Linked DNA regions of Homo sapiens: all the other regions are reported to be linked to region 1. Evidence: microRNA targets listed by miRTarBase, many of them from high-throughput screens and not tested one by one. Region 1 holds a microRNA gene; each other region holds the end of a gene's coding sequence.
What was found. The annotated mature microRNA hsa-miR-4728-5p reads UGGGAGGGGAGAGGCAGCAAGCA and lies in region 1 at 2,963-2,985, opposite strand. An mRNA with a match to its seed (bases 2 to 7 or 8) in the 3' UTR can be bound and repressed. Matches are read on the target gene's strand: a 7mer-m8 pairs with bases 2 to 8, a 7mer-A1 pairs with bases 2 to 7 and ends in A, and an 8mer does both.

Region 1 (4,075 bases):
ACCTTGGTCTCCCTTTGGTCCTGCTGGGAGCTCCCCCTGCCTCTTTCCCCTACTTAGCTCCTTAGCAAAGAGACCCTGGCCTCCACTTTGCCCTTTGGGTACAAAGAAGGAATAGAAGATTCCGTGGCCTTGGGGGCAGGAGAGAGACACTCTCCATGAACACTTCTCCAGCCACCTCATACCCCCTTCCCAGGGTAAGTGCCCACGAAAGCCCAGTCCACTCTTCGCCTCGGTAATACCTGTCTGATGCCACAGATTTTATTTATTCTCCCCTAACCCAGGGCAATGTCAGCTATTGGCAGTAAAGTGGCGCTACAAACACTAATGCTAACTAGTGTGTGTTTTTATACGTCCAGTCTGGGAATGTGGGGGGCACAGAAGTCCGGTCAGCCCAGCCTTTGCACCGCCAGGGTGGCTGTGCTGGCTGGGTGGGCTTTCTGGACAGCTACTCCTTAGGTCAGTGAGCTCCTCTGGCATAGCCAAGGCAAGGAAAATGAGTCCCACAGTAGACCCTGCCTCGTCTTTCCCCCACCCTACCCACCACTCTCCTCACTCACAAGGAGGAAATAACCCCATTCTGGTGAGTGGCCTTAGGAATTAGTTCGTTCTAAATAAGAATGATCTGGTCGTCAAAGGGCTCTCAGATCTGAATCCAGCTTCCCGATCTCCCCCAACCCTGAAGCTGGAGAACTGGATGTCTGGCTCCTCATCCAAGCTTTCTGAAGATTCCCAGCCACTCCCTCCAGGAAAAGAGGAATTGAGTGTAAGGTGAGCAGGAAGGGATGGCACAGAGCCACCCCCAGACATAGGCCGGTGCCTAGCTGTTTTCCAAAATATATTTGCAAATGGACAAAGTGGGTGTGGAGAAGGACCCCCCACACTTGCCTCCCCATACAACACCCATTCTCCCCCTGGGTCTTTATTTCATCTTTAAAAAAACAAAACAAAAAAAGTAAAAACTAAACAGAAAAGCACTCTGTACAAAGCCTGGATACTGACACCATTGCTGTTCCTTCCTCATGGGGGGCAGTACTAGGTTTCAGGGACAGTCTCTGAATGGGTCGCTTTTGTTCTTAGACACTCCCTTAGGGCCGCTTCCCCTCTCAGGCCAGCTTCCCTAAGGCTTTCAGTACCCAGGATCTGGAAGGAAAGGGCCAAGCTGGGCTGTGGCATCCACTGGACCCTAGAGTCTCATTGGGCAGGGCCTCAGAATCCACAAAGACTCCCCAGTGCTGTTCCTCTTCCAACGAGGCTGGACCCCTTCCAGCCATCTGGGAACTCAAGCAGGAAGGAAGGTTCCTTAGGACAGGTTCCTGGCATGGCAGGTTCCCCTGGAAGTGGTCGGAGGGCCCTCCCACCTCTTGATGCCAGCAGAAGTCAGGCCTTCCCTGCTCCCTGAGGACACATCAGGGCTTCTGCGGACTTGGCCTTCTGGTTCACACTGGCACGTCCAGACCCAGGTACTCTGGGTTCTCTGCCGTAGGTGTCCCTTTGAAGGTGCTGGGTGGAGCCCCCCGCTCTGGTGGGTCCTGGTCCCAGTAATAGAGGTTGTCGAAGGCTGGGCTGAAGGCAGGAGGAGGGTGGGGCTGAGGGGCAGCTCCTCCCTGGGGTGTCAAGTACTCGGGGTTCTCCACGGCACCCCCAAAGGCAAAAACGTCTTTGACGACCCCATTCTTCCCTGGGGAGAGAGTCTTGGGCCTTTCCAGAGTGGCACCAGCAGGTCGGGCAGCAGGCAGAGGGCCCTCTCGGGGCGAAGGGGGCTGGGGCCGAACATCTGGCTGGTTCACATATTCTGAAAGGTCAAGAGAAGGTGACCCATTAGGGGAAGGAACCCCGGTGTCTCTGCCACTCCCTCTGCCCCCACAGTGGACCCTGGGCTGAAGGTCCCACCTCCCCTGCCCATCAGTCTCTCTGCTTAGACTGGACTCCATACCAGGCTGGGGGCTGCAGGTCAGGGGGGCAACGTAGCCATCAGTCTCAGAGGGCAGGGGTACTGTGGGGTCCTCACTGTACCGCTGTAGAGGGCTGGGGTCATGTGTGGGGAGGCTTTGCAGCCCCTTGGCTGCCCCCATTCCCAGGTCACCATCAAATACATCGGAGCCAGCCCCTTCGGAGGGTGCCAGTGGAGACCTGGGGGCCTCCTCTTCAGAGGGCTCCAGCCCTAGTGTCAGGTCCCCACCGCCACTCTGGGGACAAGAAAGAAAGTCATGATGGGGGTCACTCACGGATCTGGGATGGGGACTCCATGGAAGGTGACAGGGTCACAGGAGAAAAACAGAGGTCACCTTTGGGGTATGACACAGTCACCGTGGAGAGAATGGGGTCACAGGGGTTGGAAGGCAGTAAGAATTTTTTGTAGGGATAATGGGGTTTCCTTGAGAGGTGACAGTTGAGGGAACATCAGAGAAAGGGACCCTAGTCCACCGGGGTTGGGGGAGGTAAGCAGACAGCCACACAGTGTGACCGAGGGCACTGACCCTGGTAGATGAGCTGCGGTGCCTGTGGTGGACCATGCCCCCAGCGCCCGGGGCAGGGTCTGGACAGAAGAAGCCCTGCTGGGGTACCAGATACTCCTCAGCATCCACCAGGTCCCCCATGTCATCGTCCTCCAGCAGTGAGCGGTAGAAGGTGCTGTCCAAGGGACTGGCTGGGCCCAAGTCCTCATTCTGTGGAGGAAGGAGAGGCAGGATGGTGGCCCCTCCCCAGCCCAGCATGCAGCCTTCCGTGAGGGGCCTGGCATACTGGACTCATCTCTCCTTCCCACCCTCTGCAGGAGGGTGCTCTTAGCCACAGGCAGGGATGGGGCACAGAGGCCCAGTACCTGGATGACCACAAAGCGCTGGGGGTCCCTGGCCATGCGGGAGAATTCAGACACCAACTCCCGGAATCTTGGCCGACATTCAGAGTCAATCATCCAACCTGGGGCAGGAGGGAGGTCAGCATGCTAGTCCCAGGCCCTGTGTGCTTGCTGCCTCTCCCCTCCCACTCCCCCTCCAGTCTGGTCTAGACAGTCCCAAGGGACAGCCCAAAGCCCTCAGGTGGTAGAGAAGTAGCACCAGACTCTGGGGTCTTCAGCCAGAACCTTTGGCATCTCTTCTAGTTTCCCTTTTAATTTTTTTTTTCTTTTTGTTTGCTTTTTTATTTTTTTGAGATGAGGTTTCGCTCTGTCACCCAGGCTGGATTTCAGTGGTGCAATCATAGCTTACTGCAACCTTAAACTAGGCTCAAGTGATCTTCCTGCCTCAGCCTCTCCTGAGTAGCTGGGACTACTGGCACACACCACCACACCCAGATAATTTTTTTATTTTTTGTAGAGATAGGATCTCACTATGTTGCCCAGGCTGGTCTTGAACTCCTGGCTTCAAGGGATCCTCCCACCTCAGCCTCCAAAAGTACTGGGATTACAGGCATGAGCCACTGTGCCCAGCTTAATTTTGTACAAGAGTGTTCCTCAAGAGTGGCTTTGGACTTTGACTGTAAAAGGGATACAAGAAGGTTTTGAGGCTCCTAACATACTAGGGCTCCTGGGTCTACATACATCCTGGTCCCCTTTCATGCCCCTTGTGGGCTCCTCCACCCAGGACCTCCCACCCTCCTCCAGGCAGCCAGCACAGCTCAGCCACGCACATTTGACCATGATCATGTAGACATCAATGGTGCAGATGGGGGGCTGGGGCAGCCGCTCCCCCTTTTCCAGCAGGTCAGGGATCTCCCGGGCTGGGATCCCATCGTAAGGTTTGGCCCCAAAAGTCATCAGCTCCCACACAGTCACACCTAAGGCAGAGACAGGGTCAGGAGTGGGAGGGCCAGAGGGAGCTTTAGTGTACTGAGCCAGAGGTTCTGCTCAGGAGTCTAGCATCATGGCAGGTAGCAGGGGGAGATGTGATGCCAGGAGACAGACCCTACCCGGTCTTTCCCTAATCCTGGGAAGTGCACAGACCCTGCAAGGTGGGGCACAGGCAGCCCCTTCCCTCCCTTCACATGCTGAGGTGGCCCCGTAATTCTCCCCATCCCAGCTCTCATCCTCCCTCCAGCCATGGCTCCTCACCCACCCCTCCCAACACCCCCCATCACA
Region 2 (4,075 bases), not on the chromosome of region 1:
TATTTTATTAGAAAATTTCATGTACTTACCAAAATTATAAAATTGAATAATTTGTATTTTCATTCTCCCTAATTGTTACACTAGATGGTAATGTGAAAAGATAGTTAAGTACTACCTCATGTATTTCCTGTTTAGAAAAATTTCAGGAGAATTTAGTTTGTATTTTGCAAGTATATGAAAGCTCCGGTTTTTTACTTTAGATACAAAACAGTTAATATGTAGATTTATGTTAATGGTGTTTTTCAAAAATGTATAACCACCTAGAAACTTTCAATTCGATGTTTATTTCTGGAGTAATGTCTTAGTGTGATTCTAACTCTTTGGAAACAGAAGACTTCTGAAATGACTTTTTAACATCTGTCTTTCCCCACCCTCCGACTATGAACTCCAGGCAAGCAGGGAGCGTATTTATCCTATTCATTTGCATTTCCTAGCACCATGCACTTTAATAGGCAATAAATACATATATGTTGAATTTAACCAAGGTGTACAGTATAATAAAATTCAGTGGTGGCGAATAGCTTAGTAAATCTATTGCCTTTGTTTTTTATCTTTAAGGAAAGAATCAGAGTATATATGAACAGAGTCAAGGAAATAACAGACAAGAAAAAGGCTGGCAAGCTGGACAGAGGTGCAGCTTCAAGATTTGTAAAAAATGCCCTCTGGGAACCAAAATCGAAAAATGCATCAAAAGTTGCCAATAAAGGAAAAAGTAAAAGTTAACTTTTTGGTTTTGATGTACACATATTCAAAAAGTACATCTTCCCCCCCCCCCCCCCCCCCGCAAAATAATTCTGTGGCAGGGCAAGGTTTAAATGTGTTTCTTATTAATATGTAAATTCACAGTAAATATGTAAAGCTAAATACTTTCCTCTCCAAAGATCATTATCTTTATTGATTAGCACTGAGGATTTTAACATTGTGATATATTATATATTTATAATTTACCATCTCTTGATGAGACTCTTATTTCTTTATATAGGTCAGTCTTGCAAGTACCATTTTATAAGCAGCTGTGAAATTTAAGTGAAATGTTCTTTGTAAACATTTGTACTATTTTAAATGAATAATGACCTTATGAAGTATGCTATCTGTAGGCTGAAATTATAGGTACATCTGTTTTCACTATATGATATTAAGAAAGCGTGAAATGACTTAAATGTTCATTTTTTTCTGTATAGATACTTTATCATGTTTTCATGATTTTAGGAATTACTGCTTTGTTGATATTCAAAGTGTGAAACTAAAACTTTATGGTTGTACTTTAATTCTTGGCATGTTGCCTCTATGTCCCATTTAAAATAAAATACATTCTCATTAACTTTAGATGGGAAATAAGGTTGTATGTTGATGGATGAATTTTGGCATGATGACTGTACTCTCAATAAAGGCTGAAAATGTTGTATAACTGACCTGTGTATTTTTATCTTTTGAGTAAATTTGCCTTCCAAATTAGGAAGATAGGTTTTAGAAGTCATCACAAATAGAGAAATTCTTGAGTTTTTGTTCCTGATGCATGGTGTCCACAGTTCTTTTCATCTCATTTTTTTTCAGATTTTTTTTATTTCATGTTTTTGAGGCTGTATCAAGTACATACAAGTGTTTTGGAACAACTTCTTAAGTTACCTAATGCCACTTAAGCAGATGAGAAGTCCAAAGGAGATTACACTGTGTTTGTATTGTGGTTTATTTTTCTGGAATATTAGTTACAGAGAGTACTACATAGTAAACCTTTTTTTAAATGTCTAAGCCCATGAATTTTAATTATATGCCCTTAATGCTTTCAGTGTTTGAATCCATATCATTATGTGTAGGAATGCCAAGTATAGTAAAGTACTTTAATTTTTGAAAAAGGAGTTGTTAAAATTTTCTGTGTGATTAATTCTCCATAAGTAACCTTGAATAAATGGATTTCTTGATTTATGATAGCAGATATTGGAAATGGTCTTAAAATGTAATGGATTTTGTAAAGCATGTTGAACTCTTTCTATGACACATGAAGAGGAAGTCACTGATAGACGCAGAAGGTCTTTTCTGTCTCTGATGTCAGTTTTTGAAGTGGAAGAACATTAGTGAACATTTATAGTTATTTTACTCCTTTTTTTGCCTTTGTCTCCAAATTTCTAGCTATTTTTAAAAATAACCTCTTCATGAGAGAAATGTGTTACTGTTAAGATCAAGTGTAGTGTACCTGTCTTTGTGTTATTTATTGCAAAGAAATTTATTTGGATTTCTGTATATTTTCTAATTTCATAAAAGAAAAACAGCTTAAATGAAAAATGTTATACAATTGCAGAAAATCATTATTGGTTTTAGCTAAGTTATTGGTTTATGAAAGTGCACCTCTACGTTCTGTTAAATTGTGTAACTTTTAAGTGAGTAATTCTTTCATTATTAGGTAGAAATAAAAGTTTGAGTATATTCCATTTTATTATGTATAATTTTAAATACTTAGCACGTAATAAGGAGCTGAATGGCTGTAGTGCATTGGGTTGCTTATTTGCTTGTTGTTTGTTTATTCTTTTGACAAATATACTTAATGACATTTATATTGCCAGATACAGTGCTAGGTGCAACGTTCCAAAGACGATAACTACGGCCTTTATCCTATCTTTATAAGGTGTTAAGAAAAAAATAGTCTTTTTATTCAATTCAGTTTCTCAGAGTTATGGGAAAATTTATGACAAATTGTGCTCATTAACCTTATTCAGAACCATAAAGGGTGATGTGTGTGGTTGATCTATTTGACTATGGTGCAGTTCTTGTTAAAATAGTTTGTTCCACATGATAGTCTGCTCTAAGTTTAGATGTTAATTACATCTTTTATTAATCTCTTTGGGAATTAACAAGTTGGAGAAGTTGCATCTATAGATATTTTTAAGATTAGAATTATAGTCTATTAATCTTGTACTAAATAATGAGATCTTGCATTTTAATATTATTTTAAGTACAAATTTTTTCTTGTTCATAGTTGTAAGGTGGGAAATCCTTTTAGTAAAACAGAATATGTTGAGTGAAAAATTGAAGCTTGAATTATGTTACATTCCTGGAATTAGGAAGTTATGTCAGGTTGATTAGTTTTAAGATACCCTGTAGATTAAAAAATCCTTCTACTTAGCAATTAGAAATGGATTGGCATTATTTCTAAATAAGGTATTTAAAATTGACCAGAAGTGTAGGAAAGACTTCAAAAATGGACAGCGTATTGAATGTAAATACTTTTTTCTTAAGTAGGTCACTGGAGAAAAAGATACTTTAGGAATCACTCAGTTTATCATACAGTTAAATTATAATTTTATTCAATAAGTTACCAGAAATTCTGGCTTTGCAAAGTGACATTAACTAAGAAAGATGTGAACAGTGACTCAGCCTCATGTAATAGCTAAATTTGGTATCTAAAGGGAAGAAAAAGCACTGATGTCTCATTTTCTCCCTTCATAGCATAGTTAGAAAACCTGCTCAGATAAATTCAGTGGCTCTTTTCCTGAATGATCTTGGTAGCAACGTATTTTATATCAATGTGACGTGAACATAATTTACAAATATAAACATCTATCTTTCCCTATATTCTGATCTAAAACTCTCCAGTTTTGGAAATACAAGCCATATTTTGTTCATATATTAGCATTTTATAGTTGTCATTAACAACTATGTTGGCAGAAAGTATACAGGATTTTATAATGGAATTCTGTAGATTTGTTTCATTTGAATAATTTGCTATTATATTACCTGTTAGCGGGCTTTCAAGAAAATGATTTGAATGTTTTTTGGTTTGCATATTCATTTTCCTATCAAAGTGGGTGTACAGCCATAGACTACTCTTTAGAATAGCCACCCTCTGACTTGATGTGCCTTTTTAAAGTGCTTATTTATGGCATAACTTTTTATTATTCCCTCAAGAAGTCTGAGATTATGGCATAATTTTTAACACAGCCAGAAAGATTAGTAAAGTGTTCAGAAAAGAGAGAGCTATAGTGATAGCTATTGGCAATTGAGGTTTAATTTTTAACTTTATATCTCCCAACTCCCTGCCCAGCTAGAAACCTAAAGCCACCAGCTCTGTGTTAGTCATCTG
Region 3 (4,075 bases), not on the chromosome of region 1:
CAGTCATGACTCATTGCAGCCTCAACTTTCTGGGCTCCCAGGTGATCCTCTTGCCTCCCATGTAGTTGGAGGATCGTGCTAGGACCATGCTAGGCTAATTGTTTTTTTTTTTTTTGTAGAGACAAGGTCTTACTGTGTTGCCCAGGCTAGTCTCAAACTCCTGGGCTCAAGGAATCGTCCCGCCTTGGTCTCCCAAAGTGCTGGGATTACAGGCGTGAGCCACCATGCCCAGCTGTGGCTGGCATTCTTACCAAATTGTCATCTCCTTGAGGCCAGAGACTCTCTTATTTGTCTTTGTAATGCCCTTCCATGTGTGTCACAATGTCCCTACATTAAGTTTTCAATAAATGTTACGTTATTTCAATTGAAATTTATTTTTTGGCCTCTTTTCTCTGCAGGAAAGAGAAGCATGCAACAATTAGATCCCTCACCAGCTCGAAAACTGTTGAAGCTTCAGCTACAGAACCCACCTGCCATACATGGATCTGGATCTGGATCTTGTCAGTGACTTTATGAGAGTTTCTGCCACAAGGTGCCCAAGAGGAGAGGAATGGGAAGAGTGCCCCAGCACGTGGTGACTGCGTGATTTCTGCTCGTTGCCTTTGAAGATAACTGGCAGGACTGACTGTAGAACACTTTGACTTTTTTCAAAAAGTGATGGAATTTGTACATCCAAATGAATATTGTATAGACAATTTTCCCAGGAATGTGCAAAATGCTTGAAAGTTCAAACTTCTTTTTTGAAATGATCTTCAGATCCAGTGGCCCATTCTTTTATCTTTATCCTGTGAAGGTGTTTTTCAGGTTTTGAAACAATCCAAAAATCATTTAGGACCAAGTCTAAGGAAACATTTTAGTGGCCAAGTTGGATTCCGATTGTAAAGGAATGATACTAATTTTCTAGCATGGCTCTGAAGGTGATTTTAGGTAGAAGAGTTTTGAGGCTGGGCGCAATGGCTCACGCCTGTAATCCTAGCATTTTGGGTGACTGAGGCGGGTGGATTGCTTGAGCCCAGAAGTTGAAGACCAGCCTGAGAAATAAGGTGAAACCCTGTCTACAAAAAATACAAAAAGTTAGCTGGGTGTGGTGGCGTGTGCCTGTAGTGCTAGCTACTCAGAAGGCTGAGGTGGGAGGATTGTTTGAGCCCAGGAGGTTGAGGCTGCAGTGAGTTCTAATTGCGCCACTGCACTCCAGCCTGAGCGACAGAGTGAGACACTGTCTTAAAAAAAATTAAAAATTGTAAAAAAATGAAAAAAAAAGTTTTGAGCATTATTTGCATCATTGGGATACATATGTCACTTCACAAGATGTTCAATTTGAAGGAAATACCACTCATTCTCTATGTCCTGTTGTCTGTAGTGTGCTTCAGTTTTTCATATTGAGTTGACCTAAATCCTGGATTCATGACAAGAAAGGAGTAAGTACTACTATTCATTGTTCTATTTGTTTATAATCTGTATTATAAAATTGCACATAATTAAAAGCTTTCCCTTGTCTTCATCTATGTTTTGAGTGTATAAACAAAAAGGGAGTGCCGGGTGCGGTGGCTCACACCTATAATCCCAGCACTTTGGGAGGCCAAGGCGGGCAGATTGCCTGAGCTCAGGAGTTCACGACCAGCTTGGGAAACATGGTGAAACCCTGTCTCTACTAAAAATACAAAAAATTAGCCGGGCGTGGCGGTGTGCACTTGTAGTTCCAGATAGGAGGGTGAGGCAGGAGAATTGCTTGAACCCGGGAGGCGGAGGTTGCAGTGAGCCGAGATCGTGCCCTTGTACTCCAGCCTGGGCGACAGAGTGAGACTGTCTCAAAAAAAAAAAAGAGGGAGGGCTGGGCATGGTGGCTCACACCTGTAATCCCAGCACTTTGGGAGGCCGAGGTAGGTGAATCACTTGAGGTCAGGAGTTCGAGACCACCCTCGCCAACATGGTAACCCATATCTATAAAAAAATAGCCGGGTATGGTGGCACACACCTGTAATCCCAGCTATTTGGGAGCCTTAGGCAGGAGAATCACTTGAACCCGGGAGGCAGAGCTTGTGGTGAGCTGAGATAGTGCCACTGCACTCCTGGGCAGTGCTTTTTCCCGGGCGAAAAGGCGAGACTCCATCTCAAAAAAAAAAAACCAAAAAAACTAGGAGGGTTTAACAGAAAATAGGATTCTTTGCCAAGATGCTGAAGTGAACAGTAGTGTTGAGATATACCTCTGCATTAATTATCAGTAGAACACCAACTAGGCCAGGCACTTCAGGAGGCTGAGGTGAGTGGTCGCTTGAGCCCAGAAGTTTGAGGCCAGCCATGGGCAGCATGCCAAAACTCTGTCTACAAAAAATACAAAAATTAGCTGAGAGTGGTGGTGCATACCTGTATTTCCAGCTACTTGGGAGGCTGAAGTGAGAGGATCAATTGAGCCCGGAAGGCCAAGGCTGCAGCAAGACATGATCACAGAACTACATTCCAGCCTGAGCAACAGAGTGAGACCCTATCTCAAAATTAAAAAAAAAAAAAAAAAAAAAGCCACACACACACAAAAAAACCCACCATCTAATTTATTACTTACGTTTCTTATTCTGGCCAGGCATGGTGGCTCACACCTGTAATCCAGCATTTTGGGAGGCTGAAGTGGAAAGATCACTTGGGGCTAGGAGTTCAAGATCAGCCTAGGCAAGATGGTGAGACCCCTGTCCCTACAAAAAATTTAAAAATTTTTTAAAATTTGATGGTGTGTGCCTGTAGTCCTCATGCCTGTAGTCCCAGCTACTCAGGAGGCTGAGGCGGGAAGATCCCTTGAGCTCAGGAGTTCAAGGCTGCAGCGAGCTATGATTGTGCCTATGCACTCCAGCCTAGACAACAGCAAGACCCTGGCTCAAAAACAAGCTAAATAAATAAATAAATCCAGGCAGTAGTGCCATGGCATGCTCATGGCTCACTGGACCCTCAACCTCCTGAGCTCAAGCAATTCTTCCACCTCAGCCTCCCAAACAGCTGGGACTACAGGTGTGCACCACCACATCTGACTAATTTTTGTTTTGTTTTGTTTGAGACAGAGTCTCCCTCTGTTGCCCAGGCTGGAGTGCAGTGGTGCCATTTTGGCTCACTGCAACCTCTGCCTCCCGGATTTAAGTGATTCTTCTGCCTCAGCCTTGCGAGTAGCTGGGATTCCACACATGCACCACCACACCTGGCTAATTTTTGTATTTTTAGTAGAGATGGGGTTTCACCATGTTGGCCAGGCTGGTCTTGAACTCCTGACCTTAGGTGATCCACCCAACTTAGCCTCCCAAAGTGCTGGGATTACAGGCGTGAGCCACCGTGCCTGGCCTAACTTCTGTACTTTCGTAGGAATGCGGTTTCTCCATGTTGCCCAGGCTGGTCTCAAACTGGACTCAAGATATACACCCACCTCAGCCTCCCAAAATGCTGAGATTACAAGTGTGAGCCACTGTGCTCAGCCAAAATAAAATGTTTCTTATTCTCTGATCCCACTAAAGGGACAAATCCCATTTCAGTTAAACACCCAGTCATAATCTTAAGTCTTAAACCTTGGCGCAAGTGCCAGTTAATGAGAAATGACATCTCCTTGCTTGGACCTACATTTGTTCTTTATTCCTTTATATATTTACCGAGTACCCGCCATATGCCACACACAGTTCTAGGATTGGAGGAGGGAGCAAAGAGCAAAAACACATGGGTTCTCTCTCATGATGCTCAGTTTGCTGACGATACAAGGAACAAGAGAAAACTCTGCAGAAGAGATATTTTAGCTGACATGGGAAAGATGAAGGAGTTAAATGGGGCAAGTATTTCAGGCAAAAGGAGAAGCAATTTTCAAAGGCTTGAGGAGGACAGTGGAGCATGCTGGGACACTTAAAAAAAAAAAAAAGAATAAAGCAGGAGTGCTGGGCACCAGTAGAAGACTGGCCTGAGACAAGTATAATTGAAAGTCATTAGAAGGCTTCAAGAAAGGGCGAGAAGATCAGAACTTTATTTTTAAAAGAGTACTCTAGTTGTGGTGTGGGGAAAAGATAGCAAGGTATGGGTGTGGGAGACCAGTTAGGTTATTGCAGGAGTCTAG
Region 4 (4,075 bases), not on the chromosome of region 1:
GAAAACCTGGGTCCAAGTCCAGGCTCTGCCACTTACACACTGCAACATGGGGCAAGTCACTTAACTTCCCTGAGCCTCTGTCTCCTCATCTATAAGATGGGATGGAGTGGCTGTGAGGATTCACTCAGGCCATGCACACAGTGAGCCTCCAGGAGAGGGTGTCTGTGGTTTGTTAGCAGGCACAAGAGCCCGTCTCACCCTCTGTGCTTCCTTCCCTGCAGGCTCTCAGATCGATGACCATGTTCCAAAGCGAGCTTCAGCTCGGATCCTCGCTCCTCCCGGAGGCAGGTCGAGTGGCATTTGGTAAAGGCATTGCCAAGCCCCCCGAGTGAGGACGCACCGCCGCCACCAGCCCGCAACTCTCCAGCCGAAGCTGCAGGGGCAGGAGAGGCTGGGCTGGGTGGCACACCACCCGAGGGGGGCCCCGGGACCCACGGAGCCCTCCCTATGTCTGCAAAGTGATTCACTGTGCTTCGAGCCAACTCTAACAGGCACTTTGAGATGTGTTCCTCCTGCTGTAGTCCTTTCTGCCTTGGCCTCGGCGGGCTTTTCTGGGGCCCAGGAAGCCCACACTATGCACAGAGCCCAATGCATAGAGCCCTGGCCAGCCCTTCCTCTCACTCCTGCCTCCGCTGGCTTTGGGAAAGCCCAGACTTTAGTGCCCTGCCCCCTGGCTGACTGGCCAGTTGCCCAGAGCACTTTAGCAGATGTGGTTTCAAAGTAAAGGCCTCCTCCCCCACCCCTTAGGCCCCGTGGTGACATTTCCCAAGTCAGACAGATGTCAGCTTCCCAGCCATGCCCAGGACGTCCTATCTCCCCCAACCCACCTCTGGCCCTGTGTAGGGGCAGGGATGGGGGTGGCTGGGACTCCTGGTGCCCCTCGCCAGCTTCTCCTGCGCCCCGCCCACACCCTCGGGGGGTCACAGGCCCAGAAGGGTAGCTGGGCGGGGCTCGAGGCTGGTGCCAGGCGCGTGTAAATGGTTTTGTTTTGCACGTTTGGTTTGCGCAGTAGTTTGGTTTGACTTGTTTGTGCATCCTGTGAAAAATAACGGTGCTTGTGTCACTAGCATAGAATAGCGACAGGAATAGATGTGGTCCTTAGGAGACGCTGCACTTGACACCAACCAGACAGCACAGGGCAGGGGTGGTGGAGGGGGCTGGGCTCACAGGCCTCTCTTTTCCCCGCCTGCAGTCTTCTGGGCTGCGGGAGGCCCTGGCCCTTTCCCCTTCCCCTCCCCTCCTTGTCTAGTTTCCCACATTCCAAAAGGGGGCCTGGGATGCTAGCCCCAGAGATGCCAGCCCTTCAGGAAGCAGGTGTCCTTTCCCCTCTCTGCCCCTGATCACTCCCAGCACTCCCCTTGCCTTCCCCTGTCTTCACCTGCCACCACACACACACACACACACACACACACACACACACACGCACGGCTTCCTATAACTTCTTCCTGCTGGACAGAGACTCAGCGCTCCTCCTGTGTGACTGGCAAGAGGCCTCATGCCTGCTGAGAGAGGAGGAGTGGGAGAGGGGCTTGCCAGACACCAGAGAGGGAGACCCCAGGCCCACAGGACCTGGCTGTCGAACCCGCATTGCTGCTCAGGTGCCGTGATCTCCCGTGGTCGGCACCAGGCCCTTGCCAGCTCATGGCCTCATCTTCTCCCCTGTCCATCCAGGTGGGCCCTCCCTGCTTCTAAAGCCCCACAGAAGTTCCCATGGAAACACTAGAGGCCGGGTGTCTCCTTCCACCTCCAGTGATCTGGGAAGTGACCCAGCCGCCTGCCCTTGTTAAGCCTGGTCTGCCCCGTGGGAAGTGACTTCATGTTGCACATGTGATTTCAGCCCCCGAGGCTTGCGCGAGGCTTCTGGACCCTCGGTTAAAGGTCAGCCCCTGGCCGGGTGCGGTGGCTCACGCCTGTAATCCCAGCACTTTGGGAGGCCAAGGCGGGTGGATCATGGAGTCAGGAGATCGAGACCATCCTGGCTAACACGGTGAAACCCCGTCTCTACTAAAAATACAAAAATTACCCAGGCGTGGTGGCGGGCGCCTGTAGTCCCAGCTACTGAGGAGGCTGAGGCAGGAGAATAGCGTGAACCCGGGAGGCGGAGCTTGCAGTGAGCCAAGATCACGCCACTGCACTTCAGCCTGGACGACAGAGTGAGACTCCATCTCAAAAAACAGACAAACAAAAAAGTCAGCCCCTGCACATCTCTGTAGTGCTTTTCATGTATTCAAACCACTTCCGTATATGACCTCTCACTTAGTCCTCATGACAATGGAGCACTTATTATTCTTCCCATTTTACAGATGAGGAAACTAAGACCCAGAAAGTTCAGGTCCTCTGACCCCAGAAGTGTCTGTGATGACCCTCCCAACCTTGGCTATCTACCCCACCTGTGGAGAGGAGGTCTGGGGTGACATCTATTGTAGATCCCACCTGAGAGTTTAACCAATGAGAAGACTTACTTTCCTGGTAGGCAGCCTGCTTTGTTTTGCACAGGAAGATAGATTTTTTTTCTCATCTTTCTTATAAACAACCTCATGCACATTCTGTGTTTGAGCCAAGACTAGTCACCCATTGGGGGCTAACCGTGCAGTGTGAGCTGCGTCCACACCCTCACTTCTCCCTTCACTCCCCCTTTCCTCACTCAGGGGCTGAGAGGACAGAGGTGGTCAGCCGGGGAGCAGAGGTGGCGAAGGGGCTCATGGCAAGTGGCAGCCATTGGAACAGGGGTGAGGACCCAGGCCTGGGAAAGCCACCAGGGATGGGGGAAACCATGACGCCGCCTCCTGGTGCAGTGCACACCATCTCTATCCCTGTCAGCCCTCACTGGGTCATGGGCCTTGGGCAGATGTCAAAGAGCCCAGCAGCAGCGGTGGTGGCCAGCTGGGCAGAGCATCCTTGCTTGGGCTAGGAAAGCTTTACCTTCTCTGAGTGCCTCCGCCTGAGAGATGTGTGACCCGTGGCACCAGGGAACCACGTCTTGGAGTGGTCCACTGTAGGCCATGCGCTTCATCCACCCCCAGTCCCTACATAGGCCCTACCCTTGCCCGGGAGCTTCTAGATAGAAATCAGAAAGAGATTCAAGGAGCCAAATGAGCGGTCAGCCCCCACCATGCACTCCTTGCCCCGTGCAGAGCTCCAGCCAGCTTCGTCACCAGCCCCACTGGCTCCTGGTTGGAACGAAAGGGTCTCTGGTTGCACTGAATGCAGCTCTCAAACTGGTCTTGTACTTGCTGAATAAATACTGTTGTTCTTGCCTTAGCTGCTCTCTAGGTTTGTGGGGTTAAGTTGCCAGAAAATTGTGCTACTGTGTGTGCGTGTGCGTGCGTGTGTGTAGTGCTAGGAGTCCACAGTAGGTCTCTGTCAAGCCGATGTCGTGATGAGGGCTTTTCTGATACTGACCCAGAAGCCACAGAACCACAAGGAAACCCAAACCCCCTCCAGCTGCTGAGGCGCAGGCACAGCCTGGGGTCGGATGGAGCCTCCAGCACCCCAGCACCCAGGTGACTTCCCCACTCCCCTGTAAATGTCATGGTGCTAAGACTGTGTCAACCCCAAGACGACACATGGTCCTGTGCTTTGGCCACCGTTTGAGGCAAAAACTAAACAGCCCGACACGTTGTGTTCTGGTGCAGGTTTGTATTAAACTGTAGCTACTTCTCACTTGGACTCTGTTGTGTTTCTTCAAAGAGGAGGGAGTTTGGCAGAGATCTCTTCTACGGTGGCTGGGCAAGGCTTCAGTTGCTAAGAAAAGGCAGCTTTGATCTGTCTCTCCTATTGGGTGGCAGCTCACTGGGAGGCTTGTGCAGAGACTGGATTTTTTTTTTTTTTTAATTCTGAGAGACAGGAGCCCCAGTGGTGCCAGATTTCCAGGGACAAGGTTGCCAAATTATCTGAAATAATTAGGAGGAAGAATTAGATGCAAAAGGGAAAAAAACTAGACTCACTCCATCTACCTATAGTCGCGTATTCTCTTGGCTACCATTTTGGAAGCCCATAGCCACCTCTCCACTCGGCAGAACGTTTGGCTGATGGAACGATGGCCTCATAAAAAAAAAAAATCACAAGACAAAGC
Region 5 (4,075 bases), not on the chromosome of region 1:
GCAGAGGTTGCAGTGAGCCAAGATGGCGCCACTGCACTCTAGCCTGGGTGACAGAGCAAGACTCTGTCACAAAAAAAAAAAATTAGCTGGGCATGGTGGCATGCGCCTGTAGTCCCAGCTACTCTGGAGGCTGAGGCAGGAGAATCGCTTGAACCCAGGAGGTGGAGGTTGCAGTGAGCCGAGATCACGCCATTACAATCCAGCCTGGGTGACATAGTGAGACCCCATCTCAGAAATAAATAAATAAATAAAGTAAATCTGACTTTTTTTTTTTTTTTAAAGAGTAAGCCCTAAGGCTTAACAAGATCATTCATACCCTTTGTTGGAGGAGTTTGGACTTGATGGTTACTATTAGGAAGTCTGTAGTGACAGAATGAAAATTTTATATGAGGCCCCTTCTTGCTGGCACTGTCAATGGATAGATAAGAGGGCTGGAGAACAAAGACCCAGATTTAAAGCCTCTGTCTTTGGACAAACCAGATATGTAGTAACTACTTCCCCGTCCTCTCCCAACCCCTTTAACTGGAGTTTGAGAGCAGCCTTCTCACTGAGAGCCCGTTTTTATCCAGGTACCATGGAGAGAAGCTACAGCCATTTGGGCAACTGAAGAGGCCCCGTAGAAATGGCTTGGGGCTCATCTCCACCATCTATGATGAGCCTCTACCCCAAGACCAGACGGAGTCACTGCTCCGCCGCCAGCCACCCACCAGCATGAAGTTTCGGACAGACATGGCCTTTGTGAGGGGTTCCAGTTGTGCTTCAGACAGCCCCTCATTGCCTGACTGACCGGGTTGGGGGCTTCCTTTCATAGCTACATGATGAAAACCCTCTGCCCTGGCCTCATCTACCACTGAAGCAGAAAGGAGTCTGGGAGCAGCAGTCTTCGTGGCTGGTTCAGGGTGTTTTGTTCCGAGCCTGCCTGCCTGCCGGTTCTATACCTCAGGGGCATTTTTACAAAAAGCCCCCTCCCGTCCCCTCCCCTTGGATATTAGGGGTAACGACCGCTTGTCTTTGGTCTCTAACCCTAATCTCTGGGCTTGCCCTTTGCCTCCTGCAGAACTTTGAAAAGCTGGGTTGAGTGAGGCTATCAGCACAGCCTTCCTTGGGGACTCTGAAGGTGTCCCCACGAAGGCCAGAAAGGGGGAAAGGGACCTGGGCGAGGAGAGGATTTGTGGTGCTTGGAAGAGCCGGCCTTGGGTGGGCCCTCCACCGCCTCTACCCTCACTGGGTGGGACTGCCAGCGGAGAGTCCGCGGGAGGTGGCTTGGGTGTGCGACGTCACGGAAGAATAAAGACGTTTACTACTGGAGCTCCCTTACTTTTCTAATTCGAGTCTGAAGGTTAGAGAAATTCCGAGAGCGATTTTCCCGCAAAGACCCCACATTCGACCCACTACCCGCGAGAGAAATGCGGCTGCGCCGCCCGCCCCTCGGCGTCTAGCTTCGTCCCCGCCGTGAGGGCGGGACTTCCTCTCGTTGGCTCGCCGTTTCCGACGCTGTCCGGAAGTCGAGTTAGTCTAGTTAGTATCGGCCTGTTATCTCCTTTTGCGCGACACGGTCTCAGCTGTTCCGCCTGAGGCGAGTGACGCTGGCCGCCAACGAGGTATACGTACTGGGACCCTCGCCCTCAGTCTCGTCTCCGGCGCGGCTACCTGCCCCGTTTTCCCTGTGAGTTGACCTGCTCCGGGCCGCGGGCCGCCAATGGCAGGGGCCGCTCCGACCACGGCCTTCGGGCAGGCGGTGATCGGCCCGCCGGGCTCAGGGAAGACCACGTACTGCCTGGGCATGAGTGAGTTCCTGCGCGCGCTGGGCCGGCGCGTGGCGGTGGTGAACCTGGACCCGGCCAACGAGGGGCTGCCGTACGAGTGTGCCGTGGACGTGGGCGAGCTGGTGGGGCTGGGCGACGTGATGGACGCGCTGCGCCTGGGGCCCAACGGCGGCCTGCTCTACTGCATGGAGTACCTGGAAGCCAACCTGGACTGGCTGCGTGCCAAGCTCGACCCCCTCCGCGGCCACTACTTCCTCTTCGACTGCCCAGGCCAGGTGGAGCTCTGCACGCATCACGGCGCCTTGCGCAGCATCTTCTCCCAAATGGCGCAGTGGGACCTCAGGGTGCGTCTCAGGGCGGGGAGGCCCATTTTGCGGATGGAGTAACTGAGACAGGGAGGACAGACGCCACGCCCCCATGTCACACAGGGAGGTAGGGGCTGGGTCGCTTTGGAGTAAAACAGGCATGAGTTCAGAATCTGGCTCTGCTACTGACTGGCTGTGTGGTGTTGATAAGTCAGTTCATCACTCTGAACCTCAGTTTCCTCACGTGTAAAATGTGTTAGTAGCCAACTTGGCGATTTTGGAAGTATGGAAGGGGTTAATGTCGAAAGTGGCATGGAGATTGTTGTAAATTGGTGGGCAAAAGTAAATGAAAGAGTGGAGTCAGATGCCATGGGATTTAAACCCCTTGCCCACTGGGAGGCTCAGTGCAAGACCTCTTGTAAGAAAAAAAAAATGACTCCTATTTCCTGGGAGAAGGAAACCAGGGTGGTTATTAGAAAGAAACAGAGGCAGGAGACTAATGGGGAAAGCTTCCCCTCTGTCCTCAAGCCCTCATTCTCATGAGGGAATGCTGATCCCTGTTTCTCCAGGCCACTCTCACCCTGTCTATTCCCTCCCAGCTGACTGCCGTCCACCTCGTGGATTCTCACTACTGCACAGACCCTGCCAAGTTCATTTCAGTACTGTGTACCTCCCTGGCCACCATGCTGCACGTGGAACTGCCCCACATCAACCTCCTTTCCAAGATGGACCTCATTGAGCATTATGGGAAGCTGGGTAAGAGCTTCTGTTCCAGGCGAAGAGCAGGGCAGCAGCTGGGCTAGAATGAAGCAGACATCTCAGCTGAAGGTAGCTGCCTCTGGTGCCTTGCGTGGTCTGGTGATAGTAGCCACAGGCAGGTTCTAACTCCTGCCCATTTATTTTGTGCCACTCTGTGCTAGTTACCGTTGTAGATTTTGGAGACAAGAGAGCTACAGATGGTGTTAGGTGTTACAAAGGAATTAAAGTGATACGACAGTGAATATTTGGGAGTGAAGTGAGTGAGCTTTGGAGTAAAACAGGCATGAGTTTAAATTCTGGATCTGCCACTGAATCATCGTGTGGTCTGGGTAAGTCAGTTCATCTCTCTGGACCTCAGTTTCTCACTTCTGCTCTGAAGCAGTGGCATCTGAGCTGAGACATGAATGGTGAGAAGGAGCCAGCCAAGGGAGGACTGTTCTATGCAGAGGCACTAGTAGGAATAAAGGCCTTGTCTTAGTCAGTTTGTGCTGCCATCACAAAAATACCATAGACCAGATGGCTTAGCCAATAAATATTTATTTCTCACAGTTCTGGAGGCTGGTAAGTCCAAGATCAAGACACAAGCCGATCTGGTGTCTGGTGAGAGTCTGCTTCCTGGCTCCTAGACAGCCTCCTTCTGTCCTCACAGAAGGAGGCTATATTCTCACCTGGCACAGAGACAGAGAAGGGGTGGGAGGCCAGGGACAAAATAGGGAAGATTGAGGTAGAAGCAGGCTGGTATGAGGCAGGGGAGTTGGCTAGAGTCCCAGTGGCCAGCTTTTTTTTCTTGATAAATTAGTACTCTCGGCTGGGCGTGGTGGCTCACGCCTGTAATCCCAGCACTTTGGGAGGCCGAGGTGGGCAGATCACCTGAGGTCAGGAGTTCGAGACCAGCTTGACCAACATGGAGAAACCACATCTCTACTAAAAATACAAAAAAGTAGCCAGGCATGGTGGTGCATGCCTGTAATCCCAGCTACTCGGGAGGCTGAGGCAGGAGAATCGCTTGAACCTGGAAGGCGGAGGTTGTAGTGAGCCGAGATCTCGCCATTGCACTCCAGCCTGGGCAATAAGAGTGAAACTCCGTCTCAAAAAAAAAAAATTAGGCCAGGCGCAGTGGCTCACGCCTGTAATCCCAGCACTTTGGGAGGCCGAGGCAGGTGGATCACGAGGTCAGGAGCTTGAGAACATCCTGGCTAACACTGTGAAACTCCGTCTCTACTAAAAATACAAAAAATTAGCTGG
Region 6 (4,075 bases), not on the chromosome of region 1:
AGATTCCAGATCAATTATACAGAGTATGACTGCAACAGAAATGAGGTGTGTTGGCCGCAGCTTCTATATCCATGGACTCAGTATTATCAAGGTAGGGTGAAACAGATTTCTATGACCAATTATGTTATGTCAATTTAAAAAAATTTTTTAAATGATGTCTAAATGTTACAGAAAGCATAAAACATATAGAAACTTAAAAAAAAGTACGGATAATATTGCCACTTGGAAGTGATCACCATTACTGTTTTGGCTTAGTTTATTTCTACCTACACTGTTTTTTTTTTTAGAGAGTCTTGCTCTGACACCCTGGCTGGAGTGCAGTGGCACAATCTCAGCTCACTGCAACCATTGCCTCCTGGGTTCAGACAACTCTCGTGCCTCAGCCTTTGGAGTAGCTGGGATTACAGCACCAATATGCCTGGCTATTTTTGTATTTTTAGTAGAGACGGGGTTTCACTGTGCTGGCCAGGCTGGTCTCGAACTGGCCTCAAGTGATCCGCCCTCCTTGGCCTCCCAAAGTGTTAGGATTACAGGAGTGAGCCACCACACCCAGCCTATACCTACACTGTTATCAAAAGAGTTAAGAAATACTGCTGTTGAATTTTGTCCATTGTTTTTCAGGGGAGCTGCATTCTCAGTGTGTTGCTAAGGGCTTACTGTTGCTGTTGTTCCTCACATTGGCCTTGTTCCTCAGCAACCCCTGGACCAGAATATGCAAAGCCTATAGTTAGACAACCACCTGGCTTTTATTTTTTTGAGATGGAGTTTTGCTCTTGTTGCCCAGGCTGAAGTGATCTCGGCTCACCACAACCTCCTCCTCTTGGGTTCAAGCGATTCTCCTGCCTCAGCCTCCGGAGAACTGGGATTACAGGCATGCACCACCACGCCCGGCTAATTTTGTATTTTTAGTAGAGACAGGGTTCCACCGTATTGGCCAGGCTGCTCTCGAACTCCTGACCTCATGATCCGCCCATCTTGGCCTCCCAAAGTGCTGAGATTACAGGCATGAGCCACCGCACCCGGCCTTTTTTTTTTTTTTTTTTTTTTTGAGGCGGGGTCTCTGTCACCCAGGCTGGAGTGCAGTGCACAATCTCGGCTCACTGCAATCTCTGCCTCCCAAGCAATCCTCCCACCTCAGCCTCTGGTGTAGCTGGGACCACAGATGCTCCACCATGCCTGGCTGTATTTTTGGTAAAGACGGGGTTTCGCCTTGTTGCCCAGGGTGGTCTGTAACTCCTGAGCTCAGATGATCTGCCCACCTCGGCCTCCCAAAGTGCTGGGATCACAGACGTGAGCCACTGCGTCCGGTCCATCTGACTTCTCAAAGACTTTAGACCTTGACTTCAGTGATTTGTTGTAGTCTTGTATGCTTCTCTATAAAATTTTAATAAATGAAATGTCTTATTTTTGTAGAAAATTTTTATTAAGTGCCCTGTGACTTTAATTCATATATGTAGCTATCCAATGCAGAATGAATATTCTCATCGCTGGCCTGAACTGAGTAAAATGCATGAGAAGAACTCAAAAATGTTAGAAATTTTAGCTTATCACAAATTAGTTAAAGTCATAGGAGTTTTATTTATACCAGAGAGAATCAGTCTTTTCTTTAGTTTTTAATACATTCGTGTTGATTGATGTTTCCCATATTCCGTAGAAAGGATTAAGAAATCCTTAAAAATGCATGTAATACAAAAACACAAAATCACTGATGGGGAAAGATATGGGGGCTGCGGGAGGAAAATAATAAGAGAAAAGTAAAACAAAACCAGGGGCACATGTAAGCCCTAAAATACATGCCAGAGGTTGCCTTTAGCAGAAGCAGGCCCCTAATTCATTATTTATTTATTTGTTTTTTGGAGACAGGTTCTCCCTCTGTTGCCCAGGCTGGAGTGCAGTGGCACGATTATAGCTCACTGTAAACTCAGACACCTGGGATCAAGCGATTCTCCCCCAAGTAGCTGGGACTACAGGTGGCACACAGCTACCACGCCTGGCTATTTTTTTTTTTTTTTTTTTTTTTTTTTTTTTTAGTAGATGGGGGTCTCGCTATGTTGCCCAGCCTGGTCTCAAACTCCTGGCTTTAGCGATCCTACCACCTAAGCCTCCCAAAGTGCTGGGATTACCAGCAGGAGCCACTATGCCCAACCAAGACCCCAGTTTACAAAAACCCAAGTATGATTAGCTATAGGAATTATGAAATCTATTCATTAATACAGGAATTATGAAATCTATTCATTAAAAATTAACTGGTTATCAATGAAGGACAGTTTTTCCTAGCTGAGTCTTGACAAATTTCTCCCATGGGCCGTCACATGGGAACAGTCAACCCCACTCAGTGGGGAGAATGGATTTTTTTTTTTTTTTTTTTTTTGAGACTCGGTCTTACTCTGTTACCCAGGCTGGAGAGCTGGAGAGCAGTGGCACAATTACGGCTCACTGCAGCCTCGACCTCCTGAGCTCAAGTGATCCTCCCACCTTAGCCTCCCAAGTAGCTGGGACCACAGGCTTGTACCTGGCTAGTTTTTGTATTTTTTTTTTTTGTAGAGAAGGGGGTCTCCCTATGTTACCCAGGCTGGTCTCGAACTCTTAGGCTCAAGTGATCTACCTGCCTTAGCCTCCCAAAGTGCTGGGATTATAGGTATGAGCTGCTGTGCCCAGCCCTGGAATAGATGTTTTTAGCCACGGTCCTACAGTGGCCACATGGCACATCACCTGTAAGTTTTCTTTGTGTGCCAGGTAACTTAGTTGTTTCAGATGGATTTTCTATGTTATTTAAGCCTAATTTTGAAAAATAATTATTTTCCCTTTTATACTTTTTGATCGAATTCCTAGTGCCTGCTGATACCCAGCACCACATAAAATGTGCTGTTTCATCTTCGCTGCAGAGTTCCTGCCCAGGGGCAATTTCAAATTTTCCTCCAGTCTTAAGTCCATTTTCTTTTTTCTTTTTTTTTTTGAGACGGAGTCTTGCTCTATTGCCCAGGCTGGAGAGCAGTGGCGTGATCTTTGCTCACTGCAAGCTCCGCCTCCCGAGTTCACGCCATTCTCCTGCCTCAGCCTCCTGAGTAGCTGGGACTACAGGCACCCACCACCATGCCCAGCTAATTTTTCGTATTTTTAGTAGAGACGGAGTTTCACTGTGTTAGCCAGGATGGTCTCGATCTCCTGACCTCGTGATCCACCCGCCTCGGCCTCCCAAAGTGCTGGGATTACAGGCATGAGCCACTGCGCCCGGCCTGAGTCCACTTTCAAATAGGGGGATGAGCTAGTCACTGCAGAGGTCCTAAGTTTCTGCATGATGGAAATACCGTGAATTTCAGCATCTGTACTGTGGTGGTGTTGGGCCTTCACCCGACCCCTCTAGGGCTGACTCAGGAATCTGGGTCAGTACTGGACTGACGGAGCTGGGGTCTGAGTCAATTATTGTCTGAACTTCAGCCTTTGAATTCACCTTCACAGTTCTTACTGTATCTTTTTGTTGTTGTTGTTTCTTTTGAAACAGAGTGTCACTCTGTTGCCCAGGCTAGAGTCCAGGGATGCCATTTCAGCTCACTGCAAGCTCCACCTCCCAGGTTCAAGCGATTCTCTTGCCTCAGCCTCCCGAGTAGCTGGGACTACAGGTGCCCACCACCACGCCTAGCTAATTTTTATATTTTTTTAGTAGAGACGGGGTTTTGCCATGTTGGCCAGGCTGGTCTCAAACTCCTGACCTCAAGTGATCCACCTGCCTCAGCCTCCCAAAGTGCAGGGATTACAGGAGTGAGCCAGGGCACCCAGCCTAGTGTAACTAGCTTTGGATTTCAGGTATTTATGGAAAATAAATTTAAAACTTCCAAATGACAGGTAATTTAGCTTGATTTTGTGGGCTTTGTGAGGACGCCTTTTGTACTTAAAAGAAGGAAAAAACTCAGTTTGGCAGAATGGGGTCTGGAGTGTCTATGGTTTTAACTTTTTTAAGTTTATACATTTATGTATGCATTCATGAACTATTTATTGAGTGGCTACTATGTGCTGGGGCTTGGAGATACCACAGTGGCAGAAACAATGTCCCCACCTTGGTGGAGCTTCCATTCTA
Region 7 (4,000 bases), not on the chromosome of region 1:
ATTTCTCTCTTTTACTCCTTCCCTGTCCCAGTGACCTCTTTGCAAATGCCCACTCCCCTTCCATTTTCTGCCATGAGTTGAAACAGCCAAGGCTCCCACCAGATGCAGATCCCCAGTCTTGAACTCTCCAGCCACCAGAATCGTGAGCCAAGTAAATGTCTTTTCTTGATAAACTACCCAGTCCTGGGTATTCTGTTAACAGTAACAGCAAGTGGACTAAGACATTGCCTTTTGGAGGAAGTTACTCAGTATGGTGCTGATGGCCTCTGAATTTAATACCCACATGAGATTTTTGTCTTCCCACTTTGCTGTTTTTCAGATCGCCATGAGGTTATCTCCAAAGAAATATTGGAACTGGACCCATGGGAAAACCAGTGGAATGTTGTAGCCATCAACGTCCTCATGCATGACAGCTATGATGTCTGCCTAGTAGCCAGGATGAATCCCCGAGACCTCATCCCCCCGCCTTCAGATTTGGTGGAAGAAGGCAATGAGCACTAAGGTGACCTTGCTGGAGGACCTCCTGCTGTTCTGCAAACAAGGCCTTCAGAACGGAGAGGGCCCACAGCATCTCTGTCATGCCAGTCATGTGCACTGCATGCGTAGTGGCCTGTGTGTGAAGAAGCAGTGTGTGCTGGGCACTGGGTGGGGAGCATGGGGAGTCTCCCTTCAGGGACTTCCCAGCCTGATAGGGTAAATAAGACACTACAAAGAAGAGGTGATGACGGCCACAGGAGGGGCACAGGGCCACAGGAGAGCAGCAGAGGGAGGGTCTCACTCTGCTGGGGACCCATGAACAGCACTGCCAAGGAGCAGACCTTTTATTGGGTCCCCAAAAGGATGAGGAGGAAGTGGTCCCATGGGTGCAGTCAATGATGAGTTCATGGAAACAGCCAAGCAAGGGCCCAGAGACAGAAAGCTCGTGCCTGTCTGCAGTATCCTGGCTGGGCCAGATTGCCTGGGGCACAGGGTTTGTGGTCAAGGCTGGAAAAGTAGGTTGTAGCTAGATGACCAACGCCTGAAAGAATGAGGAGTTGGACCTGGTCTGTAAGCCAGGGAATTGTCTCAAAATCGTGCATTAAGGGAGACTTCTCTCTGTGCTCTGTTCCAGCTTCAGTCTTATAAACACTGACCATTCTCCTTCAGAATCCCCTTCTACTGAAGCAACGCCACCCAGCAGCAGGGCTAGCTGTACTACCAGCCCCTAACAACCAAGGCACTCAAGCCAGACCACAGTGGCCAAGAATCCTGCCCTGGGCTGACTCTGTCCGGGACAGGGATGTGGGGTTCTGCAGCCTGGTCCACTCCGGGGCTGGCAGGGAGTGTCCTGGAGTGGGCTGACCCAGGCTGCCTTTGCCCACCTCTCAGACACATACAACCATCTGCAGGGTAGTCCTGGCTGAACAGGACTCGCCCAAGCCACCCAAGCCAGGGACAGAGAAGGCTCTGGCTGAGGACAGGGGAAGAAGCATCTCCTCCAGCTGCTGCCAACCCCATGGCCCGGCCTTTGCAATAAAGATGGAGCCACCCACTTCAGCCCACAATTGAGCATAATCAGAAGACAGTCACTCCCAAAATATATGTTAGAAATAACATTTAAATGACACATGGGAAGTCCGTCTATCTTACTTCCCGTCTCTAATTCTGGAAGCACAGTGGATTCAATGAGGGCATCTTCATAGCTCTTCTTCAGCAACTTCTCCAAAGAGTTTCACATTGCACAAGGCTCTTTTGGAAGCAGGAGTGGTCAGTAAATTCAGAGGGAGACAAACCCTAAGTAGAGACAGCTTTCTTTGGTGCTGAGCTGTGTGATTGTGATGACCGCTAGCCTGTGCCCCTAGGTTCCAGCTGCCCACCAGGCAGGACAGGCAGGTCTTGCCAAAACTGGAGCCTGTTGGAAACCTATTTCTGCCACCAAGGAGAGGGACCAGGAGACCCAGCGTAGGTTGGCCCCAAGTAGGCTCAACTCGGGAGGGTGGGGGTCCCGCCTTTCTCTTCGCACTTGTGCCCCAAGTGCACTCACAGTACCTGGCATGTGGGTGACCTCTTGGGTGGCCGGCATGGGGCAGTGTTTCTCAATCAGAGGGCCTGGGCCCCGAGCACGTCCAGGAATCTGAGTTAAAGTGAGCTTACTCTTTCCCCAGTGGATGATCATGATCTGTGCATTCTTTTTCTTGCTACAAAGATGTTCCTCCTAGCTGCTGTGTTGGCTGTCGGCGGCCAGGGTTGAGGACGGCCTCCACAGGGCCTCCACTTCCCTCCATTCCTCTTCACATAGTCACTCCACCTGCTCCACCTGCTTGAAAAGTCCAGAAAGCTGCCGCGTCTCCCTGGCTCAAGGAGGCCTTGTTGGCATGTCATGGCACATCTCCTAGATGTTTTGGGTTCAAGATCTGGGTTCCAGCCCCCGCTCTGCTACTTAGCTAACCATGTGAACTTGGGCAAGATGACCTTTCTAAAGCCTCATTTCCCTCATATGCAGAGTGGGAAGGAAAATATTAATACATACTTTATAGGGTTGGTATGAGGATTAAGTGCTGAGCAAAGTGCCTGTGAAATCCTGAAATAATAAGCATGTTTTAGCTGCCATTATTATCATCACTGTCATTATCATTGCAGTCAGCACTTCCCAAAGCAAGGTGCCCAAAACAGACTCAGTGCTTTAGGGAAGTGGGGCAGATGTGCATATGGCTTGTGACGGTTCTTTCTTTTTTTTTTTTTTTTTGAGACGGAGTCTCTCTCTCTCGCCAGGCTGGAGTGCAGTGCAGTGGCACGATCTCAGCCCACTGCAACCTCCGCCTCCCAGGTTCAAGTGATTCTCCTGCCTCAGCCTCCCAAGTAGCTGGGATTACAGGCGCCCACCACCACACCCAGCTAATTTTTGTATTTTTAGTAGAGACGGGGTTTCACCATGTTGGCCAGGATGGTCTCAATCTCTTGACCTCGTGATCTGCCCGCCTCGGCCTCCCAAAGTGCTGGGATTACAGGCATGAGCCCCTGCACCTGGCTGAGATGGTTCTTAATTTCCCATACCCTGTTGCTTGGCTCCTCCAGTTGGCGGCTGAGAGTTAAGCAAGGGTTTACTCGGATCTGAGGCCCCCGATGCCCTCAATGGACACATTCAGGACCCTGTGGCAGCTCAGCAGAGGCACCTGAGGGTCACGCTAGGTGAGACCATCGCCCGCCTGTGGGAGGCAAGATAAGTGGGTAAACATCATTCCTGTCTAATGCGAGGTCTGGGCAGTGTCCCAGTGGAACTTTCCAGAGAGTGCCAAGGGAGGACCGAGAAGGGGCATGACCTCTGCTGGAGCCAGGAGGGCAGTGACCAGGAGCTGGCTTAGCACTGAAGGGAAGCAGGCATCAAGGGCAGGATTTCTCAAACTTCTTCTGAGGAATCCCCGAGGTCGAAACCGGTGCTTCACAGATTTCAGATGTCTGATCTTGATTTTTCTTTGATTCCATACAACAGATTGCTTGCCTGGGTTAGTGCTTATTTTAAGTTCTTGGTGCTTCTTGTCTGACTTCTGTATTTGCAATTAAAAACAACATGACCCTCCCCACCTGCAGCCAGATATCGTTAGAAATTCAACTTCGAAATATATTCCTATCACTCCTGTTTTCACTTTAATAGAAGGCTGTTGCAGTACTGCATGATGGGCTCTTATAAAACTTCTACTATCTGCTAATTCTTATCTTTGTGACAGGATTGTTTGACACTGAGCAAGGAAACACAATAAGGAAGTAATTTGGATGCTAGGCTGGCAGAAGCCTGCAGCTGTCAACCACAGCCTGCCCCAGTGTGTTCAACACGGTGGCATTGTTCTCCCTGACTTCATAATGAGCAAATGTTTCACATTTGAACTTAAGGAATAAATTTTTACTAATAAAAGATCACTTTCATTTTGTTTTTCACATTGCAGTTCCAGGAGATGCTGAGGGTCCCTTGAGTTGGGGAGTGATGGCCAGGGGACAAGCAGCAGGCCCGGGGCAGGGCTGTGAG

Region 2: the mRNA of C1D is a reported target of hsa-miR-4728-5p. The part of its 3' UTR that is shown has no 7-base or 8-base seed match.
Region 3: miRTarBase lists DSN1 as a target of hsa-miR-4728-5p. The part of its 3' UTR that is shown has no 7-base or 8-base seed match.
Region 4: the mRNA of DPYSL5 is a reported target of hsa-miR-4728-5p. Seed matches in the 3' UTR shown: 7mer-m8 at 440-446, 7mer-m8 at 1,231-1,237, 7mer-m8 at 1,677-1,683 and 8mer at 2,363-2,370.
Region 5: miRTarBase lists GPATCH3 as a target of hsa-miR-4728-5p. Seed matches in the 3' UTR shown: 7mer-m8 at 964-970 and 7mer-m8 at 974-980.
Region 6: the mRNA of TCTN2 is a reported target of hsa-miR-4728-5p. Seed matches in the 3' UTR shown: 7mer-A1 at 980-986, 7mer-A1 at 1,113-1,119, 7mer-A1 at 1,126-1,132 and 7mer-A1 at 1,265-1,271.
Region 7: miRTarBase lists KBTBD12 as a target of hsa-miR-4728-5p. Seed matches in the 3' UTR shown: 7mer-A1 at 2,799-2,805, 7mer-A1 at 2,831-2,837, 7mer-A1 at 2,964-2,970 and 7mer-m8 at 3,552-3,558.

What each region holds. Positions count from the first base shown.
Region 1 is chr17:39,725,406-39,729,480 of GRCh38, reverse strand. MIR4728 (microRNA 4728) reads right to left here and starts at 2,986; the gene lies at 2,920-2,986. ERBB2 (erb-b2 receptor tyrosine kinase 2) reads right to left here. Exons shown (of 27, transcript NM_004448.4): 23 at 3,628-3,774; 24 at 2,822-2,919; 25 at 2,478-2,666; 26 at 1,934-2,186; 27 at 823-1,792. The coding sequence ends at 1,437. It overlaps MIEN1 (migration and invasion enhancer 1), which reads left to right. Exons shown (of 4, transcript NM_032339.5): 4 at 1-971. RefSeq lists an enhancer at 2,206-3,178.
Region 2 is chr2:68,039,537-68,043,611 of GRCh38, reverse strand. It overlaps C1D (C1D nuclear receptor corepressor), which reads left to right. Exons shown (of 5, transcript NM_173177.3): 5 at 559-2,482. The coding sequence ends at 723. Among named protein-coding and RNA genes, the nearest start is that of C1D, 21 kb to the left of the region's middle.
Region 3 is chr20:36,749,221-36,753,295 of GRCh38, reverse strand. DSN1 (DSN1 component of MIS12 kinetochore complex) reads left to right here. Exons shown (of 11, transcript NM_001145315.2): 11 at 399-1,501. The coding sequence ends at 508. Among named protein-coding and RNA genes, the nearest start is that of NDRG3, 5.2 kb to the right of the region's middle. RefSeq lists a silencer at 3,883-4,075.
Region 4 is chr2:26,946,689-26,950,763 of GRCh38, forward strand. It overlaps DPYSL5 (dihydropyrimidinase like 5), which reads left to right. Exons shown (of 13, transcript NM_020134.4): 13 at 222-3,663. The coding sequence ends at 307. It overlaps LOC124905979 (a long non-coding RNA gene), which reads right to left. Exons shown (of 3, transcript XR_007086251.1): 3 at 3,827-3,893. Among named protein-coding and RNA genes, the nearest start is that of MAPRE3, 22 kb to the right of the region's middle. RefSeq lists an enhancer at 2,881-3,381.
Region 5 is chr1:26,887,721-26,891,795 of GRCh38, reverse strand. GPATCH3 (G-patch domain containing 3) reads left to right here. Exons shown (of 7, transcript NM_022078.3): 7 at 570-1,308. The coding sequence ends at 786. It overlaps GPN2 (GPN-loop GTPase 2), which reads left to right and starts at 1,513. Exons shown (of 5, transcript NM_018066.4): 1 at 1,513-2,110; 2 at 2,671-2,827. The coding sequence starts at 1,700. RefSeq lists enhancers at 1,170-1,439, 1,950-2,119, 1,475-2,352.
Region 6 is chr12:123,706,983-123,711,057 of GRCh38, forward strand. TCTN2 (tectonic family member 2) reads left to right here. Exons shown (of 18, transcript NM_024809.5): 17 at 3-91; 18 at 622-1,417. The coding sequence ends at 731. Among named protein-coding and RNA genes, the nearest start is that of ATP6V0A2, 3.3 kb to the right of the region's middle.
Region 7 is chr3:127,983,778-127,987,777 of GRCh38, forward strand. It overlaps KBTBD12 (kelch repeat and BTB domain containing 12), which reads left to right. Exons shown (of 6, transcript NM_207335.4): 6 at 320-3,889. The coding sequence ends at 501. Among named protein-coding and RNA genes, the nearest start is that of SEC61A1, 67 kb to the right of the region's middle.